3 linked regions of the Homo sapiens genome follow. The protein of the gene in region 1 purifies or fractionates together with the protein of each later gene. This does not show direct contact. Each region holds a gene or a part of one and is shown in the gene's direction. Other genes may lie near its edges.

Evidence for each region.
Region 2: the proteins of ATXN7L3B (region 1) and OAS3 fractionate together in Homo sapiens (co-fractionation; one large-scale study listed by BioGRID). This does not show direct contact.
Region 3: the proteins of ATXN7L3B (region 1) and ESRP2 fractionate together in Homo sapiens (co-fractionation; one large-scale study listed by BioGRID). This does not show direct contact.

The regions. Positions count from the first base shown.
Region 1 is NC_000012.12:74,543,059-74,545,974, forward strand, and holds the end of ATXN7L3B (ataxin-7-like protein 3B), read left to right. Parts: 3' UTR 1-2,372; downstream 2,373-2,916.
Region 2 is NC_000012.12:112,951,936-112,955,589, forward strand, and holds part of OAS3 (2'-5'-oligoadenylate synthase 3), read left to right. Parts: intron 1-3,654.
Region 3 is NC_000016.10:68,233,304-68,237,445, reverse strand, and holds the start of ESRP2 (epithelial splicing regulatory protein 2), read left to right. Parts: upstream 1-1,318; 5' UTR 1,319-1,400; coding exon 1,401-1,598; intron 1,599-1,683; coding exon 1,684-1,812; intron 1,813-1,823; exon of another isoform or gene 1,824-2,265; intron 2,266-3,338; coding exon 3,339-3,452; intron 3,453-3,563; coding exon 3,564-3,678; intron 3,679-3,946; exon of another isoform or gene 3,947-4,020; coding exon 4,021-4,119; intron 4,120-4,142. UniProt on the Homo sapiens protein: mRNA splicing factor that regulates the formation of epithelial cell-specific isoforms. Specifically regulates the expression of FGFR2-IIIb, an epithelial cell-specific isoform of FGFR2.

The DNA.
Region 1 (2,916 bases):
TTCAAAAAGGTTTTGTGGATAAACCTTAAACTCTTGGCGGTGTTTTTGTTTGTATTTGTTTTCCCATTTTTGAAAACATTTTCAATCATATTTCTTGAGACTCATTGGAAATATGTGAGCTAAAAAGGAAATACTAAATTGATTTTAGAGATGAAAAAAAAATCTTCAGCAGCAGTGACTTGCCCATAGTTCAAAAAGCAAAAATTTACAAGTGGTGGAAGCAAAAGTAGAATGCTGCTGTTGTGACTCCTAGGTCAGCGGTCTTTGTTGAAGCAATGGAGTAATAAATCAAACGACTAATTAAAAACAAAACAATGAAAAATCCATGATGCTTATGAACAACGTTAGGGCAATGAATTTGAAAACAAAAAAAGGGAAGTCTATTTTAAAATAGAACTCAAAAGTAACTCAAGGAATTGTTAATTTTTTAAGTAAATGAATACATCTATAACTTTTAAAACACCACACAATTAGAATTTTATAGAGAATACAGTAAATGAAACAACAACAACAAAAACAGGCAAAATAATACCAAAATAGATTTTTTTTTTAAATGAAGATGTTAGCAAACCAACTCCTTTAAAATAACAAAAGTAAACATCAACAAGTCAGTTTAATCACAGGATGGCAAGATTTCATCTCAAAATCATCACATTACCATTAGAGAAAATCCATGTGAAAATTTGAACTGATACTGAAAAATAGTTTGAAAAAATTCAATACGAATTATTGCCTAAAAAACAAAGACATTAACAATATAGAAACCAAAGCTCAAGAACTTGTACACACTGCAAAAGGGTATGTACCAAAAATCTACACCAGTTACTATACTTATTAATGAATACTTGGAAGCACTCCCTTTAAAAGCAGGAATGGAAGAAACAAAATTTTTACTGTTCTAAGATGATATTTACATGAACAATTTTATAGAATCTAGAAACAGTTGTTCTCAGATGACATCTACATCTACATGGATAATTTTATAGAATCTACAAACATACCATTGAAAGTAGTGAGAAAATTTAGCACAGTTACTGGATATAAGATCAATATCTAAAATCAGAATACCAACATTTAAAAAGTGTTATTAAATTTAGAATGTAATTCAACAAGTTATAACAGTCCTATGAAATAATATCACAAGAACTGTGTAAGATTTTATAAAGAAAATAATATTTTCTAATATGTTGGGAAAATCCCAAGTAAATGGAGAGAAGATGTTCACGCACAGAAAATGCAATCAATATCATTGCTCCAAATTATGTGAATCGGAAGCAATCTGTATTACAATCCAAATAGATGTGCTCATGGAACTTGACAAATTAATTTTAAGATTTATATGAACACCAGATGCTAGAATAGACAAGATCTTTTTGACAGATGTATATTTTAGTTTTGGTGCAGAAACAATGGAATAGAATAGAGTTTAGAATTAGATCGAAACACACAGATTACACGTTTATGTCTTGATGTGTGGTTAAATTTGTATTATAATCAGTGGAATATAAACCAGTATTGTGGAACAGATTATCCATAAATAATAAAACTGTGCTCAGACACAAAATTAATTCCTATATGGATTAAAGATTTAATGTGTAAAAGTAAAAAATGTCAAATCTTTCTAGAAAAATATAGGAGGATGTGTTCATAATTGTGTATAAGGGGAAAATTTCTTAAAAGTACAAAACATAGAGAAAAGATTGATGTGTTCGACCATAATAAAAATAGAACTTTCTGTTCATTAAATCATACTAGAAACAAACAAACCAATAACCTGATGTGCTAGTTGTTTAGTTCTTATAACTGATTAAAGATTACTAACAAAATAGTTGTACAATTGCCAAATGTATAAAGTAAAAGAACAGCTCATTCTTACAAAAAGAAATATGAATGGCCAAAAAGTTGTAAAAGTTCCCTTAGGTTCAAAGAAATGCAAACTAAAAACAAAATACCAATTTACCCTACTCAGTATGATTAAATTTTTTTAAATGGTGATGACATCAACTCTGAAAGGCATATGGAGCAATTAAAACACTTAAACTGCTAGTAGGCTGTAAATTGGTAAAAAATGTTTTTAAAAGCAATTTAGAAATACCTGTTGTGGTTGAAGACAAAAGTAACCAATATCCCAATATTTCCACCTGTTGCAGCATTATATGTAATAGGGAAAAATTGAAAGTAATATACCCATTTGGAATACATATAGTCACTATACTGAAGTGAGAATAAATTAACCAGAGCTGTACAAATAAAATAGTAAACCTATGTTCTTATACTTTGTTGCCTTTCTTTTGATGTTTAACAATAGGCAAATCAATGCTGTATGTTGTTTAAATAATTGTGAATATGAAATAAAAACTATACCAAAAATATTGGATGAGACTTCCACTTTCATGGTTATGTTCCTGTAGATAGCAGACTAATTGATATAGGACATCAGTATGCTAAGTAAATTGAGGTAAAGATACTCTTAAATGCATTACTGTGTTCCCAAGGAAGTGAAGGAAATACCCAGAATACCCAGGTCTTTCTTCTAACGCACACACACCCCAAAGATACAAATGAAAACAGAAAAGGAGAGTGCACTGAGGAAAATATAGATACCATATGATACTGGGAGATTAGACCCTGATCATCACAAATTGAAACTGTAAATGCAAGATGCCTGAAATAAAGTTTATATCCTTGGTGAAAGGATGGGCAGAGTAAAACTAGATAGATTGATAAATGATTGATTAATGGGTGGACAGATAAGAGAAACCTTCATTACTTTAGAGAGAACAGATGAAAAAGAAAGACTCTGCTATTGCCTGAGGTGAAATGAATTGACTAAAATAATAACAGTCATGCCATTATCATCAACATTTACTTTGGGAATGTGTACCCATACACTTGGTTTCACATAGCTACCCTACC
Region 2 (3,654 bases), about 38 Mb from region 1:
TGGGAGGCAGAGGTTGCAGTGAGCTGAGATTGCACCACTGCACTCCAGCCTGAGAGACAGAGTGAGACTCTATCTCATGCTTTCCATTGCTGAATGCAGACTTCTATATAGGTCCTTTAGATCTAGCTTATGACTTCTTGCTCGGATAATTTTTTGTTTGGTCTCTCAATTTCTGAGTAAAATATCTTAAAATCTCCTGCTCTGAATGGATATTTATCCCTTGTTCCTTGCAATTCTGTAAATTTTGTTTTTAATATTTTGAGGCTATGTTATTGGGAACATATAAGTGCATAATATTATATTTTATTGGATTGTTCTTTTATTATTAAGTAATAATCTTCATTTCTGAAAGTTATCTTTGTCTTAAAGCCTTTTGTCTGACATTAATAGGGCTTTAGTCCTCCTTTGTCAGCATTTTCCTGACGTACCCTCTCTACTCTTTATTTACTAGCATGTGTTATTAAATTGTACCCATTACAGGCAGCACAAAGCTAAAAGACAAAAATGAAAGAAGCAACAATGATATAATGATCTTCAAGGGTTTGATAATATCTTGGAACTAAACTTCCAGACACTAATAATAGGGGAGATTATTTCTTTTGTTTTTGTTTTTACAATCTATGCAAATTAAACCCTATTAATATAATTAACAAATTTTTTCACCATTGCTACTTGATTTCCTGTTCTTCCTTCTGGATTCATTTTCCTTCTTACAGAAATACATCTTTTAGTACTTTTTCAGAAAGGGTTTATGAGTGACAAATTTTTCTCAGACTTTGTCTAAAACCATTTCTGTTTCACCTCCATGCTTGAATGGGATGCTTGACACTTGTTTTCCTTAGTTCTGCTGTCTTCTTACCTGTTGTTGCTGATGAGAAGTCTCTGTCAGTTATTGATTTTTTGTTGTTAATGATCTGTTTTCTGTTTGCATGCATGAATTTTGTTTGTTCATTTTCTTTTGATTTCCCTTTCAGTGGCTTTTAAGACTTTCTCTTGGTTCATAGTATCCTTCAGTTTCTCTTTGATGTATCTGTGTATAGAATTCTTTTTTTCTATGATTTTTTTATTATACTTTAAGTTCTAGGGTACATGTGCACAACATGCAGGTTTGTTACATATGTATACATGTGCCATGTTGGTGTGCTGCACCCATTAACTCGTCATTTACATTAGGTATATCTTCTAATGCTATCCCTCCCCACTCCCCCCACCCCACGACAGGCCCTGGTGTGTGATGTTCCCCACCCCGTGTCCAAGTGTTCTCATTGTTCAGTTCCCACCTATGAGTGAGAACATGTGGTGTTTGGTTTTCTGCTCCTGTGTTCGTTTGCTCAGAATGATGGTTTCCAACTTCATCCATGTCCCTACAAAGGACATGAACTCATCCTTTTTTATGGCTGCATAGTATTCCATAGTGTATATGTGCCACATTTTCTTAATCCAGTCTGTCATTGATGGACATTTGGGTTGGTTCCAAGTCTTTGCTCTTGTGAATAGTGCCACAATAAACATATGTGTGCATGTGTCTTTCTAGCAGCATGATTTATAATCCTTTGGGTATATACCCGGTAATGGGATGGCTGGGTCAAATGGTATTTCTAGTTCTAGATCCTTGAGGAATCACCACACTGTCTTCCACAATGGCTGAACTAGTTTACAGTCCCACCAACAGTGTAAAAGTGTTCCTATTTCTCCACATCCTCTCCAGCACCTGTTGTTTCCTGACTTTTTAATGATCGCCATTCTAACTGGTGTGAGATGGTATCTCATTGTGGTTTTGATTTGCATTTCTCTGATGGCCAGTGATGATGAGCATTTTTTCATGTGTCTGTTGGCTGCATAAATGTCTTCTTTTGAGAAGTGTCTGTTCATATCCTTTACCCACTTTTTGATGGGGTTGTTTGATTTTTTTCTTATAAATTTGTTTAAGTTCTTTGTAGATTCTGGATATTAGCCCTTTGTCAGATGAGTAGATTGTAAAAATTTTCTCCCATTCTGTAGGTTGCTTGTTCACTCTGATGGTAGTTTCTTTTGCTGTGCAGAAACTCTTTAGTTTAATTAGATCCCATTTGTCAGTTTTGGCTTCTGTTGCCATTGCTTTTGGTGTTTTAGTCATGAAGTCCTTGCCCATGCCTATGTCCTGAATGGTATTGCCTAGGTTTTCTTCTAGGGTTTTTATGGTTTTAGGTCTAAGATGTAAGTCTTTAATCCATCTTGAATTAATTTTGTATAAGGTGTAAGGAAAGGATACAGTTTCAGCTTTCTAGATATGGCTAGCCAGTTTTCCCAGCACTATTTATTAAATAGGGAATCCTTTCCCCATTTCTTGTTTGTCTGTTTGTTTGTTTGTTGTTGTTGTTGTTGTTGTTGTTTGAGATGGAGTCTCGCTCTGTTGCCTAGGCTGGAGTGCAGTGACGCGATCTCGGCTCACTGCAAGCTCCACCTCCCAGGTTCACACCATTCTCCTGCCTCAGCTTCCCTAGTAGCTGGGACTACAGGTGCCCGCCACCACATCTGGCTAATTTTTTTGTATTTTTTAGTAGAGACAGACAGGGTTTCACCATGTTAGCCAGGATGGTCTTGATCTCCCGACCTCGTGATCCACCCACCTCGGCCTCCCAAAGTGCTGGGATTACAGGCGTGAGCCACTGCGCCTGGCCCCATTTCTTGTTTTTGTCAGGTTTGTCAAAGATCAGATGGTTGTAGACATGTGGTGTTATTTCTGAGGGCTCTGTTCTATTCCATTGGTCTATATCTCTGTTTTGGTACAGTACCATGCTGTTTTGGTTACTGTAGTATAGTTTGAAGTCAGGTAGCGTGATGCCTCCAGCTTTGTTCTTTTGGCTTAGGATTGTCTTGGCAATGCAGGCTCTTTTTTGGTTTCATATGAACTTTAAAGTAGTTTTTTCCAATTCTGTGAAGAAAGTCATTGGTAGCTTGTTGGGGATGGCATTGAATCTATAAATTACCTTGGGCAATATGGCCATTTTCACAATATTGATTCTTCCTATCCATGAGCATGGAATGTTCTTCCATTTGTTTGTGTCCTGTTTTATTTCACTGAGCAGTGGTTTGTAGTTCTCCTTGAAGAAGTCCTTCACATCCATTGTAAGTTGGATTCCTGGGTATTTCATTCTCTTTGAAGCAATTGTGAATGGGAGTTCACTCATGATTTGGCTCTCTGTTTGTTTGTTATTGGTGTGTAGGAATGCTTGTGATTTTTGCACAGTGATTTTGTATCCTGAGACTTTGCTGAAGTTGCTTATCAGCTTAAGAACATTTTGGGCTGAGACGATGGGGTTTTCTAAATATACAATCATGTCATTTGCAAACAGGGACAATTTGACTTCCTCGTTTCCTAATTGAATACCCTTTATTTCTTTCTCCTGCCTTATTGCCCTGGCCAGAACTTCCAACACTATGTTGAATAGGAGTGGTGAGAGAGGGCATCCCTGTCTTGTGCCAGTTTCCAAAGGGAATGCTTCCAGTTTTTGCCCATTCAGTACGATATTGGCTGTGGGTTTGTCATAAATAACTCATTATTTTGAGATGCCTCCCATCAATACCTAGTTTATTGAGAGTTTTTAGCATGAAGGGCTGTTGAATTTTCTCAAAGGCCTTTTTGGCATCTATTGAAATAATCATGTGGTTTTT
Region 3 (4,142 bases), on another chromosome or scaffold:
CTGCCAAGTGGAGCTACGCTGAGCTCTCTCCCCCCGGGCCTCGCCCCTTTCCCGGGCATGAGCTCTGGTGATGCGCCCGGGTGCCCCGCTCTCTCCATTGTCCAGGGGCCGGGCCGCAGCACCCTCCTTGTCCGAAAGCGCGTGGTGCGGCTCCCGTCTCAGTCTCGAGTCGGGCTAGGCAACCGCGTGACTCAGTTCCCGCCACGCTGGAGCCCCCTCCTTCCTGCTGGATTATTCAGTTTCTCAGTCACTTATTCAGTTTCTCAGTCACCTCCCTGGGAGAGTTTGGGAAAGTAAGGAACGGCCGGGAAACGCGCCATAAAGGAGCCTCACCAAGCTCCACTGGGCAAAGGGAGGAATGGGAGCCCCAAATGCGGGGCTGTCAATTGGGTTGTAGGTGCGGGATGGAAAAGGGAGGATCTGCAGCCCGCATGCGCGCACACACGCTCAACGCTAGCCCCCCATCGGCCAGAGCGCTCGCAATCTCCAGGCAGCTTCTCCACCGTCCAGAAAGGGACGAAAGCAGGCAGGCCCCCACACGTGGGGTAGGAGTGAGGCTCCAGGCCCGTTCTACCCCTCTCAGCCTCGTCTAGGGTGCAGCTCTCTGCGATTTGGGGGGTTCCTTTCCCCAGCATTGAGGCCTGCCCACTCCCAACCCACAACGACCGCGCTCTGGCACTTCTCAGTGCCAGGCTAGCGCTCGGCCCTAGCATCTGCGTGGACAAGCCCTTCCCTGTGATCCCTGGTGACCACCCCACAGCTCTAACAACGCTGATGTTCCCGCCGCCCTCCCCTTTCCCAGGTGACTTCTGGTGATCCCCCTACAGGGTGATACCCGGCAACTCTCACCGCCCCCTTGACCCTTTGACTTCCATCAACCCCAGACCTGCCGTGTTGACCCCCACAGCCCCTAGACTGCCTCCTGGTGACTTCCATACTGGAGAAGGCCTCTGTCTTGCACGCTCCTTTGCAGAGGCCTGACGACCCCTGGGGAAGAGTGGGGGGAGAGCGGAAGAATGGGTTAGCCCCCAAAATCAGGCAGGACCAGCCCTGGAAGTAGGAATCCGGATCCTAAGCGTGCGCCCAGGCCGGGAGCGTGAGCTCTTGCGTCCTGGGTTGAGTTCTGGCGGCCCTCCCCCAAGGTTCCCGGAGCCGCCCCGGTCACGTGGCCGGCGGGGCCGGCAGGTAACTCGCCTGGAGAGGGCGTGGGCCGGTAGCCGCCCCGCCCCGCGGGGCGCCACGGGCGGGTCTTGGCAGCGCCCACTGAGCCAGCCGGGCCGCAGGTGCCGCCCCCGATACACGGTGTCCCGCCCAAGCTGATCCGCGTCTGCGGTCGGTCGGTGCGTGCGTGCGCCTCGTCGGTCCGCGTGTCTGGCCGAGAGCCCCCTTCCTCTGCGGCCATGACTCCGCCGCCGCCGCCGCCCCCTCCCCCGGGCCCTGACCCCGCGGCCGACCCCGCCGCGGACCCCTGCCCCTGGCCCGGATCACTGGTCGTCCTCTTCGGGGCTACGGCGGGTGCGCTGGGACGGGACCTGGGCTCGGACGAGACCGACTTAATCCTCCTAGTTTGGCAAGTGGTTGAGCCGCGGAGCCGCCAGGTAGGGTGGAAAAGAGGCGGTGAGGTCCCCAGGGAGCTTCCGGGGTCGAGGGGCGCGGCTGATCGGTTTCCCCCGCCGCTCACAGGTGGGGACGCTGCACAAATCGCTGGTTCGTGCCGAGGCGGCCGCACTGAGTACGCAGTGCCGCGAGGCGAGCGGCCTGAGCGCCGACAGCCTGGCGCGGGCAGAGCCGCTGGACAAGGTGCTGCAGCAGGTGAGCGCCGGGGTGGGTGGCGGCATGGCCTGGACGTGAGGACATTTCTGGGCGGGATTGGCGGCCGGAGGCTAGGCCTGGCGTGCCGCAACCAACCGGTCCAGGCGGCAGGACTGGGCTCTTGTTTGAAACTTTGAGCGACTCTCGCGTGTGCGTGCCCCTTTCATCCGCGCGTGCCAGCCATTCCCCTGGGCTCCTTACTTTTCAACCATTGCAGGAACCTACTCCTACCGAAGGGATCGGGACGCAGGCTTTGGGATCCATCCCCAGTTCCCGCCCGGGGAGCGAGGCCGAGACGCCTTTGGGAGACCTGCTGGGTCAGGTCTCCCTGAGCCGCAGCCGGAAGCGAAAGGGGTCGAGGGGCCCATATAGGTCACCTGTCCTTGCGGCCCGCGTCTTCGGCCTGCTTGGGAGCTGCTGGAGCGGAGGCGTAGGGCGGTGTCGGCCCTAGAGGTAGACGCCGCCAGGTGTAAACTGCTCGTCTAGGCCTGTCCCGGCCGGCTGGCCAGGCGTGGGCGCTGTCCCGGCCTGGCCTGGGGGACTATCTGCCTGCTGAGTGCAAAGGCCTGGGGTGCCTCCTGCCCTAGCTGAAGTGGGAGGTGGTTTCCATTGCTGTTTTCTTTTCCTTATCTTCACTACGGCGCTCATTCTATGTCTGACTCTTGAGTGTAATTAGTGTAAGTCCTTTTTATACACTCACGTTCTTTCATCTTCCAACAACTCTTGTGGTTCCTGATGAGGAGGCACCACGATGATGATTCCTTGTCTGTTCCAGAAGGGCTCCCGGCCCTTCACTTGGGGAGTTTGCTGGAGGAGAGCTGGGTTGCCTTGCTCTGTCAGCCCCAAGTTGTAAAGTGTCACAGAATTGGCAGGGAGGGTTCGTGGGTCACTGATTAGTGTTTATACTTCTCCAGCAAGGATGGAGGCTGGGGGAGGGCTGGGCAGCCTCAGGAGTGCCACCCCCTCTATGAGCAAACAGCTCAGTGCCAGCCGGTCAATAGGATGTGGGTCAAAGCTCATGCTGCCCCTGATGTCCAAGTGTGGAGCTCTGTCCTTGGAGTTTCTCTGCCCCTCGGTTGGTCAGACCTGGAGGCGGGGCTGCCATTGACCATGAGCCTTCTGGGCCTCAGGCAGGCCTGGGCCTCCCCCACCTGTCTGAGGGTGGTACCCGGTCAAAGACAGGTTTAACCTGCTTTGCCCCGCCCCTTCCCACCTGCTTGTCCCACTCCAGGTGTTTGCTCTGGCCCCACTCCAAACTCCTGGAGTGTGTGTGTTGAGGGCTTCGGTTATATGTGATTGCCCTCATTTGGCCTGGAGGAGGTGACAGTGGACTGGAACAGGGTTGGGGGGTGAGGGGAAGGGACATAGGGCTAGGCTCAACAGGCGTGGCCTCTTATTCCCAGGCAGGATAGGGCTGAACATCTGGCTGAACCAGCTTTGCAGCCTGCCTCCTTCCTCCTACCCTCACTTCCTGCCTGCCCAGCTGTGAATCTGTGTGTTTCTCTCTCCCCATTCCCTATCCCCAGTTCTCACAGCTGGTGAACGGGGATGTGGCTTTGCTGGGCGGGGGCCCCTACATGCTCTGCACTGATGGGCAGCAGCTATTGCGACAGGTCCTGCACCCCGAGGCCTCCAGGAAGGTATGCTCCTGAAGGAAAACCGGGTGGGGTGGGGTGGTCAGTAAGGTTCCCAGAACCCCTCTTGTCCTGAGGGTGGGCAGGGCGCTCATCCTCAATCCTATGTGCCCCCAGAACCTGGTGCTCCCCGACATGTTCTTCTCCTTCTATGACCTCCGAAGAGAATTCCATATGCAGCATCCAAGCACCTGCCCTGCCAGGGACCTCACTGTGGCCACCATGGCACAGGGTATCTGTGACCCAGCAGGGTTAGGGTGGAGAAGCCACTGTGGGTACATGTGTCTGAGTATGTGCATGCTGTGGGTGGGTAATATGGACACATACAAGACTGCGTTATCTGCTAAGTCCCTGAGTGTACTGTGTCTTCGTGTCTGTGCTAGGATGAGTTTGGAATGTGGGTATGTGTCTGTCTATGTCTGGACTGGGAATCTGTATGTGCACACATGAACTGGGCCAAAACAAATGTGTATGCTGGTCTCCAGCATGTGTCTATGGAGGGGAGTTGGGCCCAGGAGTAAACAGGATTAGTGCTTATGCTAAGATGTCTTCACTGTCACTTCTCTGCCCATAGGTTTAGGACTGGAGACAGATGCCACAGAGGATGACTTTGGGGTCTGGGAAGTCAAGACAATGGTAGCTGTTATCCTCCATCTACTCAAAGAGCCCAGCAGTAAGGTTTCCCTCACTGCCTGT